Linked DNA regions of Homo sapiens. The protein of the gene in region 1 interacts with the protein of each later gene in a pairwise test. Each region holds a gene or a part of one and is shown on either strand. Other genes may lie near its edges. The genes, in order: ARHGAP45, PIBF1 and TRIM50.

Region 1 (3,651 bases):
AAACCCACCCACACAGCCCGTAACAGCTACTGACACCCGCTGTTGCCCAGGCGGTCTGTCCTCAGCCAAGAGCAAACCCGAGAAACCGCAGCCCCTAAACACCCAGGGAAGATGGATTGAAAGAATACGAGACGCCGCGTGCAGTGGCTCACACCTGTAATCCCAGCACTTCAGGAGGCCAAGGGGGGTGCGGATCACTTGAGGTCAGCAGTTCGAGACCAGCCTGGCCAACAAAGTGAAACCCCATCTCTGTTAAAAATACAAAAATTAGCCGGGTGTGGTGGCCGGCGCCTGTAGTCCCAGCTACGCGGGAGACTGAGGCAGGAGAATCGCTTGAACCTGGGAAGCGGAGGTTGTGGTGGGCTGAGATCGCCCCATTGCACTTCAGCCTGGGCAGCAGGAGCGAAACTACAACTCCCAGAAAAGAAAATCTGAAGCGGGGAATTGACCTCGCGGCGGAGTGCAGTGGCAGCTCGGGCAGGCTGTGGACACCGGGCCAGCGTGGAGCTTGTGGCTGCAGGCAGCACCGGGATGGGAAACGGGGAAGGAAGCTGGGGGTGAAGGGTGAGGCCCAAGGCCAGCCCCAAGGGAGAGTGGAGGGGCGGCCGCAGAGCCTTTGCACCTCTGCCAGATTCAATGCAGACCTCGCTGAGTTTTTTGCATAAAAGACACAAAAAGACAGTGGCCTCCCGAACAGCCCTGTCCAAACCAAATTATCTCCCTGTGGTTCCTTGGGCTTCATCCGACAACGACTGTCCCCAGCAGCGCCCCCTGCTCCCCAAGCCCCGAGTGGCCAGCCCCGGTCAGGCCCACACCCTCACCTGGCCCCCGGGGGTCTCCTCCGGCTCCTCCTCGAAGACCAGGCCGTAGTGGACGATGAGAGTCTCGATGACGCGGGCCTGATGGGGATAATCCACCAGGGAGGAGAGGGACACGGTGGCCTCGGTGGGCCGTGGCCGAAGCAGCGTGGGCCCGAACACGATGCCCAGGTTCCCGGGGGTCATCTTGTTGTCCTGCTCCACCTCCACGATCCTGCGGGGTGGGCAGGGGCCAGGTGCTGAGCGGCTCCCGGGACCCCGCGCCCTCCACTCCATATGCCGGGACTCACCTGCGTAGGTGACGCAGCAGGTACTGCAGCGAGGCCCGGTTCTCAGGCGGCAGGTCCCGCAGGAGCTCCCGCAGCCGACCTGCCAGGGCCACCGCCACTGCCTCGCTCTCCGAGCCGTCCTGCCGGCCCCGGGACGCCGCCTTGGCCTCGGCCTCTGCCTTCAGGCTGTCCTTGGCCAGCCCTACGAGCTCGTGGTAGAGGCGGAAGGAGATGAGCGGCTCGGGAAGCTGCGCAGAGTCAAGGGTCAGCAGGTGTTGGTGGGCCTGGCCCAGCCCCCACGTGTGCCTGCCACGCCCCCAGCCTCAGCCCCACCCCCACAGAGCACTGGCCACACCCCACCGAGCTCGGGTTCCACCCAGAGCGGCGTCAGTCCCCTTTCCCAGCCCAGCGTGAGCCCTGCCCCTCCTACCCGGGCCACGCCCGCAGCTCCACTCCCTTTCTCGCTCTGGCCACGCGCGCCCCGCCCTGCAGGTACCCTAACGAGCTCCGGCTCCACTCAGCATAGTCTGACCCCTTCCCAACCACCTGCGAAGTGCTGGTCCCACTCCCATCCCAGCCCAGCTCCGCCCTTCCCCAGACATGACCACGCCCCTAGCCCCAGTCCCGCCCTTCCCCGGGGATGACCACGCCCCTGGCCCCAGCCTCGCCCCACCAAGCCCAGGCCCCACCGCCAGCCCCGCACTTGTCTAGCCTCAGCCCCGCCCCTAGCCTCATACGGGTCCCTGCCAAGCGCTGAACACGCCCATCTTGCTCTGGCCACGCCCCACCGAGCCCCGGCCCCGGCCCCGCCCCCGCACAGCGTCAGGTGTGCCTCTGCCGTGGCCACACCCCTGCCACGTGCTGACCAAGCCCCACCCCGCCCCTCCTGTCCCTGTCCGTGCCTCGGCGCAGAACTGGCCCCGCCTCGCTCCTACCGTGACCACGCCCCCAGCCTCAGCCCTGCCCTGCCAGGCACTGTCCCGCCCACCCTGTCCTCCCCAGGCCCCCGCTTGCGCCAGTCCTGCTCCAGCTCAGTCCTGCTCCAGCTCCCGGACCCCCACCCCGCCTCCTCCTGCCTGGCTACGCCCCTTCCAGGCTCTGCCTGGCCACCACCGGTGGGTCTCACCTGACGCAGGTAGAGCTTGAGGACGTTGCTGATGTCGTGGGGCGAGGCCTGCGACAGCTCGACCAGCTCCTTGCCGTTCTCGAAGGCCTGGCACAGCTTCTCCACGCGTGTCTTTACCCCATTGACCCGGTAGATGCCCTGCGGGAGCCCGGGGGTGGGGAGGCCCATCAGCCTCGGCCCACTCCCGCCTCCTCGCTGTGAGCCGCTTCCTCCCCCGCCTCACCTTGGTGCGCAGCGCCCGCCGCTCGATCTCGCAGACGCACTTCTTGACGATGAAGGGCACGCCGTCGGGGGCGCTGCGGGCCGCGTGGCTGAAGTCCTGGCCGAACAGCTGCAGGCGGCCTTGCAGCTTCTTGTGCCCGCACTGTATGGCCAGCGTCTCCAGACATTTCTTGTGGCAGGCCAGGCAGCACTGGGGGCGGCCAGAGTGAGTGAGCCCAGCCCCGGGGCGCCCAGCTCAGCGCAGCCCCCAGCGGCTCCACCCCACCTCCCCGGGGCGCTCACAGCCCCCACACGGCAGCTTCTGCAAACACAAGCTGGACAGTGGCTCGTGGCTTCCACCCCAGGGGTGATCCCGCCTGCCCTGTGGCCTCCTCTCCTTCCCGCCCCTTGGTTTTCTGGACACAGCTCCAGGGCCTTTGCCCTCCAGGTCTTCTGGCCACAGCCCCAGGACTCTTCACCCTCCAGGTCTGCCCCCTGCCTCGCTGCCTCAGAGAGCCAACCCTGCTCCCCAGAACTAAAAGAGCCCACCCCACCCCCTCCGTTCGCTTCCTTCCAAAGGCGTCCGACTGCTCCCTGCTCTGGGCCGGACATTCCTGAGGGCACACAGGCCGGCGGTGCTGGGCACCCCAAAGGCTCCCGAAGGCTCCCAGCTGTCCGTCGGGGCGTCCCACTCACCTCTTCACACTCAGCACCCTGGAAGTAGACGTAGCTGTTGCACTCGCGGCACTTGGCGGGCGTGCGGAGCTTCCGGAGCCGGTGAGTACGGGCCGCCTTGGACAGCCCCTCGTGGCGGAACGGTCCACTGGGCACGGCCACCGGCAGCTCGGGGGTCATGCCGTTGAGGTCAGCTGCGGGCAGCACAGGCAGCCGGTGTCACCAAGGCAGCTCAGGGCCAGGCCCATGGACTGTGTCCAAACCCCCCTCTCTCTCCAGCCCCGTCAGGGGACCCTCACCCTGCTCAAAGGCTGAAGCCCCGGCTCCACCGTCTGGGTCCACCAGCTCCTCCGTGGACGACATGGTACCACTGGATGACGTCCGCTCGAACTTCTTAAAGTCCCCTGGGCGGGAATCAGGACTGTTCAGACTCCCCCAGCCAGGGGGGCCCCCTCCATCACCCCGGTGGGTGATGAAACCCTGAGGCTCAGGAGAGGAGGCAGCTCCACACCCCAGCCCGCCAGAGAGCCTCCCTCACCTGCGCCAGGGCCGGGGTCCAGCC
Region 2 (3,651 bases), on another chromosome or scaffold:
AGCAGAATGAATGAGTTTAAAAACATCGGTCATAAAATATAAGATAAACTGGGGAAGAAAAAAAAGCCCTTTTATGCCCCGGGTAAATTCTCACAAATGTACAAAAGGAAACAGGTGTATGGATGTTAATTGTGTCATTATTAAAAGAAATTCAAATGCTTTTCAGTAGCAGAATGGAAAATAAATTGAGATTTACTCTGCAATATAATTTTATGTAGCAGTTAAAATCATTAAATTAGATCTGAATGTATCACTTTTTTTTACTAAAAGTTCCTTATTTTCTGGCATAACATAATGTTCCTAGTTTTGGTTTTCGTTTGTTGGTTTTGTAATTTCATTGCCTCAGCTCTTTGTCTAAGAAGTCTTGATCTCTTAGTGGGGAATGCTATTTAGAAATTTAGGATTTGGGTGCTATGGTCATGGCTACATTGGTCATTATTTCTAGGCCCTTTGAGTAGGCAGAGAAAGTAGAGGGAGAATGAGGAGGAGGCTTAACACACTATGGATGAGATCATACTGATACTTCTTTTTTTTGAGACAGAGTCTCACTTTGTCACCCAGGCTGGAGTGCAATGGCACGATCTCGGCTCACTGCAACCTCTGCCTCCCAGGTTCAAACAATTCTCCTGCCTCAGCCTCCCAAGTAGCTGGGACTACAGGTGTGCGCCACCATGCCCAGCTAATTTTTTTTTTTTTTTTTAAGTAGAGACATGGTTCCATGGTTGACCAGACTGGCCTTGAACTCCTGACCTCAGGTGATCTGCCCACCTTGGCCTCCCAAAGTGCTGAGATGACAGGTGTGAGCCTCTGCACCCAGCCCACGTTGATACTTCTAATTCCAATTCAACACTGCAACAGCCACTTGGATGAGGTGCCAACTGGCTAAATATAGCAAACTTGAATATCACAATAAATATTGGCAATAATGAATTACAGTCCATTGAATAGAATAAGAGTTTATAAGTGCAGGCTAATAATAAATACAGAAAGAGGATCTTAAAATTTTTTTAATACATCATCTTTACCATTTTTAAGTGTACAGTTCAGTGGTAATAAATATATCCTTTTTGGGAAAGAGGATCTTTATGGTTGAAATCCAAGCAATAAATGTATATGCATGTAAGAATGACCATTTTGTAGCCGCATAATAATATTGATTCAGAATCATCATTGGAATATAAAACCATGAAGTATAAGTATGTTAGGGAATAGGATATTTACACAAAGCATCTCTTCACAATTACTTACTAATTTTAAAGGGCAAAAGGATACCTTTATAGTTAAACTCTGGCAGATGCTACCTTAACCTAGTGATCAAAGTTACTATCACCAATAATGGGATAAACTGACGTCACATACCTCAGTACATCTTCACATAACATACTGAGAATGCGTTTCTGTATCAGAGAATCATTTCTGAGAATCATTTCTGTAGTATTCCTGCCCAAGTGCCTAACCTGAATCTAATAATGAAGAAACTTCAGACAAGTGAAAATTGAGGAGCATTCTATGATGCAGCTAGCCTCTGCTCTATAAAAAGTCATAAAACACAAGGAAAACTAAGAAATCTTCAAGGTTAAAGGAGACTAAAACCCCATGACATCTAGATGCATGGTAATAGATTATAATATGATGATAATAGATCCTTGGATTACCATTATGGTAATAGAGCCTTGGCTCAGGGAAAAAAAAATTCACAAAGGGTGTTTTGGGAGACAGTTGACAAAATTTGAAAATGGATTGTATGTTAGATAATATTATATTAGGGCTAAGTCTCCTGAATATGATAATTATACTGTGATTATATAAGAGACTATCTTTAATCTTAGTAAATTCACACTAATTATTTAGGGATAAAGGGACCTAATGTCTCAGTTGAGGAAACAAATGCACATGTATGAGTATGTGTGTGTAGGTGTGTATACACATATAGATACATGACCCTTGACCAACATGGGGTCCACTTATATTCAGGTTTTTATCAACCTAACACCAATCGAAAATACAATTTTCACGGGATGTGAAACCTGAGTATACAGAGGACTGACTGTTTGGTGGGATCTGCAACAACTGCAGGACTTCAGCATGTACAGATTTGCATATTCAGGTTGTGGGGGTGGGTCTGGAACCCATTCTCCACATATACCGTTAAGACACCTGCATATATTCACATATATTAACAAGAGAGAGGGTTTGAATAAATATGACAAAGTAATATTTATTTAATATTACAAAACAAATACAACAGTGTTAATGATTGGTAAGTAAAAGCATTAAAAAGAACCAAGCTGGTTACAGCGTGTCATGTCTGTAATCCTAGTGCTTTCAGAAGCACAGGCAGGAGGATCACTTGAGCCCAGGACTTTAAGACTAGCCAGGGCAATATAGCAAGACCGTCTTTACAAAAAAAAAAAAAAAATTAAATTAGGCACATGGTGGCATGCACCTGTAGTCCTAACTCTCTGGCAGGCTGAGGCTGGAGGATCACTTGAGTGCAGTAGTTCAAGTCCAGTCTGGGTGACATAGCAAGACCCCCATCTCATAAAAAAAAAAAAAAATTTAAAAAAAAGATTTTTTAAAAAATTGCATGTGAAAGCACAAAATAAAATTTAAAAATTTTTTTAATTAAAAATAATCTAAACATTCTAAAAATAAAAAAGCACAAAATACGTATAGTAATATGTATCAGAATAGTAATACTGATAGTCATCTTTACTTATTGGGTTTGTAGGTGATTGTTATTTTGTGCTTTGCTCAGTTTTTCTTCAATAAACATAATATTTTGTTAACTAGAAGAAAAAAGGCTTTCTAAACGTTTTTGAAAAACTGATGCAAAGGAAAACAATTCCTAACAGCCCTCTCTGTGGAAATACCAGGTGGGTCAGTGAAATAAAGTGCAAAGGCACTGCTTCTGACTGCAGGGAAGTAGTTAAGAGTTAGTAAATCTGTTTCTCTGCTCATTTTAAAAAATGTGTGTTGTAGGTTTTAGTCCAATTCTTGGTATAACTTTTTTGGGGAACTTGTCTTAAAATGGAAATTAAAATCTGGGTAATCATAAACAATTTGTGAATGAAATAGTCACAAGAATGCCTGCCTACGTATCTACTATGCAATCTAAATGATAAGTTGTATTTTTTTTTTTACCTTAACTGAACTGAAAGCCTAGAGCCATGTATACATTCTTTAAAAGTTTTAACCTCAAGATAAGATTGAAGATGACTAATGAAAAAATACCAAATGTATGTTAGTAAGTTTTATTATTTACTGTACTGGCTTATGTAGTTTGTATATTCCTTAAAGGTAATAAATTGATATGTATGTATTTGAACAAGGTCTGAAACAGAGTCCCTTCTAAATCTGAAAAGTAGGTACTTTATAGTTCATGGAATTACACTGAAGCCCCATTGCTAGTGTCTCTATTCAGCGTCCTAATACATAGTCAACCCTTTTAAAGTGTACGCTGTACAAGGGGATGTAAAATTTACATGTCTCTTTGAATTTTATTTTAACAGTGAACGTGATGCACTTGAACAGGAAGTAATTGAGCTTAGGAGAAAACATGAAATACTTGAAGCCTCTCACATGATTCAAACAAAAGAACGAAGTGAATTATCAAAAGAGGTAAGCTTATAATTAGAGTCACTTATATTA
Region 3 (3,174 bases), on another chromosome or scaffold:
GGCCTGATGGCTGAGAAGGACCCAGGACCTGAGTTTGCCAGGCAAGCCGAGGAAACGGTCCTGTAAAAGGGGGAGTGGCATGTGGACTCTGGTTATGAGTTCAGGGTGGCTGGGTGTAAGGCAGGATATCACCAGGAGTCGGAGCTGGGAGAGGTGGGAAATGGCCAGAAGCAACATCCAGGAGCACCGGGCATCCCTTGCTTACCCTCCTCACCCTTGCGCAGCAGGCAGTATCAGCCCTGCCTGAAACTTGCTCTGCAGATTGTGGGAAGAGAGTGGATCCATGTTCTAGACCCAACAAACGAACACGTGCAGTTCCCAAGCCTTCCTCACTCCCTGTTTATGGGAGACTCCGTGTTTCTCACATTTCTTTTAGTCTTAGAGACAATTTGGTCAGAAGACATGGGTTTAAATGAAGGGACAGAGGCTGGGCATGGCGGCTTACACCTGTAATCCCAGCATTTTGGAAGGCTGAGGCAGAAGGATGCCTTCAGGTCAGGAGTTCGAGACCAGCCCAGCCAACATGGTGAAACCCCGTCTCTATGAAAAATACAAAAATTAGCTGGGTGTGGTGGCAGGCACCTGTAATCACAGCTGCTGGGGAGGCTGAGGCATGAGAATCACTTGAACCTGGGAGGTAGAGGTTTCACCGAGCTAAGATCACCCCACTGCACTCCAGCCTGGGCGACAGAGCAAGACTCCATCTCAAAAAAAAAAAAAAAAAAAAAAGTCTTGGCATGGTGGCTCATAGCTGTAATCCCAGCACTTTGGGAGGCCAAGGTGGGTGGATTGCTTGAGCTCAGGAGCTCAAGACCAGCCTGGGCAACATGGTGAAACTGTCTCTACCAAAAATAGAAAAAAATTAGCTGGGCATGGTGGCACATGCTTATAGTCCCAGCTGCTAGGTAGGCTGAGGTGGGAGGATCACTTGAGCCCAGGGGGTTGAGGCTGCACTGAGTCGAAATCATGCCACTGCACTCCAGCCTGGGTGACAGAGTGAAACTCTGACTCAAAAAAAAAAGACACATTACTTGGCCCCCATAATTGGTTTCTGATTGGCAGGTCTGGTGTGGGGTCTAAGAACCTGCATTTCTGACCATTTCCCAGGTGGACCATTGACTTTCTACTGGGAATGGGTTGGACCATTTTCCAACCAACACTGCTGGTCCCCAAACCTGCACTCTAGAAGCACCACTATAGAGCGTTTCCCCTTCTAGGAAGGAGATGGGTCCTCCCTGAAGGGGCTGTGCAGGGGAGGGGATGATGGGCATTGATGGGCATTGTGACTGCAGTCCTGCACTGTGGATCTGGCTGGGCAAACATAGATAGGATGGAGGGGTGGGGTGGGCCACGTGATACCTCACTCTCTTGTACTGTGAACTGTCACCTGCAGAGCAGAGATGCCGCAGGCCCGGCCCTTAGAAGGCGCATTCAGCCCCATCTCCTTCAAGCCAGGCCTCCACCAGGCTGACATCAAGCTGACCGTGTGGAAAAGGCTCTTCCGGAAAGTTTTGCCAGGTGAGGCCCTGACCCGTCCTCCTTCCTGAGGGCTGCCGCCCAGGGCAGGTGGCAGTTCATCGATTGTATCAGAGAGATAATAAGCTACAGAGAACTCAGATGGAGGTTTGTGGAGGGTCCTAGTGAGAGCATGGGACTGAGTTTCCGAACAGCTTGGGTTCCTGCTTACTCTTTCCTTTCCTAGCTGCTGGCTGGGCAAGTTGTGTCATTTCTGAGCCCAGGTTCCTCATCTGTAAAGTGGGGCTATTTGCACCCACCCGGCCAGGCTGCAGAGCTTGTATATAGACATACGTGTGTTGCAGCTTAGTGCTTCATAAATGGTATTAGGTTGGTGCAAAAGTAATTGCAGTTTTTGCCATTACTTTTAAAAGTAATGTACTTTTTGTCTGGGCACAGTGGCTCATGCCTGTAATCCCAGCATTTTGGGAGGCTGAGGAGGGCGGATCTTCTGAGGTCAGGAGTTCAAGTCCAGCTTGGCCAACATGGTGAAACCCCGTCTCTACTAATAATACAAGAATTAGCTGGGCGTGGTAGTGTGCGCCTGTAATCCCAGCTACTCAGGAGCCTGAAGCAGGAGAATCACTTGAACCAGGGAGGTGGAGGTTGCAGTGAGTTGATATCGTGCCATTGCACTCCAGCCTGGGCAACAAGAGCAAAACTCCGTCTCAAAAAAAAAAAAAAAAGTAATATCCTTTTAAAAATGTCCTTCCTACTCAAAGGACAAGTGGTCTTCAAAGTAATGGCAAAAACCGCAATTACTTTTGAACCAACCTATTCTTGTTCTCTGTCAAAAACAACTCAAACACATTTCATTCCTTTATTACTAGCATGCTGTCTTGTACATAAGGGAGACTGCTAACAGAGCGATTTCATCCACCAAAAGCAAAAATAGGGTTTATATAAAAGAAGGGGCTGGGCACGGCGGCTCACGCCTGCAATCCCAGCACCTTGGGAGGCCAAGGTGGGAGGACTGCTTGAGGCCAGGAGTTCAAAACCAGCCTGGGTAACATAGTGAGACGCCATCTCTACAAAAAATAATTAGTGGGGTGTGGTGTTATGTGCCTGTGGGCCCAGCTACTGAGGAGGCTGAGGCAGGAGGATTGCTTGAGCCCAGGAGTTGGGAGGCTGCAGTGAGCTATGATTGCACCACTGCACTCCAGCCTGGGTGACAGAGGAGACCTCATCAGTAAAAAAGAAAAGAATGAAAAAAAAAAAAAAGGAAAGATAAGAAGGAAAAAAATTGCAGTTTGTGAACTGTGAATCCTGTTTGTACATCTCACATTTCTTTTTTTTTTTTTGAAGGAAAATTTGTATTATTTTCATGTACAGAAAACTCAACAGTGTACGTTTTACCCAGTTTAGTGGTAGTTTCTTTAGTCTTTGCCTTTTTGAGCTTGGCAATGTGAGCCACAGACTTGGGACCCAGGACACTGCCTCCCCAGTGATGGCGGATCTCATCACATTTGTTGTTGTAATTGGTCCTGGTAGCTTCCACCAGCTTAGCCCAAGCTCCTTTGTCTTCCAAGTTAACCTGTGTGAAGGCGACAGTGGTGCAGGTCTTCCTGGGGACTAGACATCCCAGTCTTGCCTTCCCCTTGATGATGCAGTCAGGGACCCCACTTTACACACAGGCACAGGCAGGAAGACAGCCAGCTT

The links.
Region 2: the proteins of ARHGAP45 (region 1) and PIBF1 interact in a two-hybrid assay, tested with the Homo sapiens proteins (one large-scale study listed by BioGRID).
Region 3: the proteins of ARHGAP45 (region 1) and TRIM50 interact in binary tests that used the Homo sapiens proteins (3 or more experiments, as listed by UniProt).

What each region holds. Positions count from the first base shown.
Region 1 is NC_000019.10:1,080,524-1,084,174, reverse strand, and holds part of ARHGAP45 (rho GTPase-activating protein 45 isoform 1 precursor), read right to left. Parts: coding exon 3,628-3,651; intron 3,494-3,627; coding exon 3,389-3,493; intron 3,284-3,388; coding exon 3,111-3,283; intron 2,626-3,110; coding exon 2,437-2,625; intron 2,352-2,436; coding exon 2,214-2,351; intron 1,336-2,213; coding exon 1,109-1,335; intron 1,033-1,108; coding exon 822-1,032; intron 1-821. UniProt on the Homo sapiens protein: Contains a GTPase activator for the Rho-type GTPases (RhoGAP) domain that would be able to negatively regulate the actin cytoskeleton as well as cell spreading.
Region 2 is NC_000013.11:72,823,498-72,827,148, forward strand, and holds part of PIBF1 (progesterone-induced-blocking factor 1), read left to right. Parts: intron 1-3,512; coding exon 3,513-3,621; intron 3,622-3,651.
Region 3 is NC_000007.14:73,314,909-73,318,082, reverse strand, and holds part of TRIM50 (E3 ubiquitin-protein ligase TRIM50), read left to right. Parts: intron 1-1,393; coding exon 1,394-1,518; intron 1,519-3,174. UniProt on the Homo sapiens protein: E3 ubiquitin-protein ligase that ubiquitinates Beclin-1/BECN1 in a 'Lys-63'-dependent manner enhancing its binding to ULK1. In turn, promotes starvation-induced autophagy activation.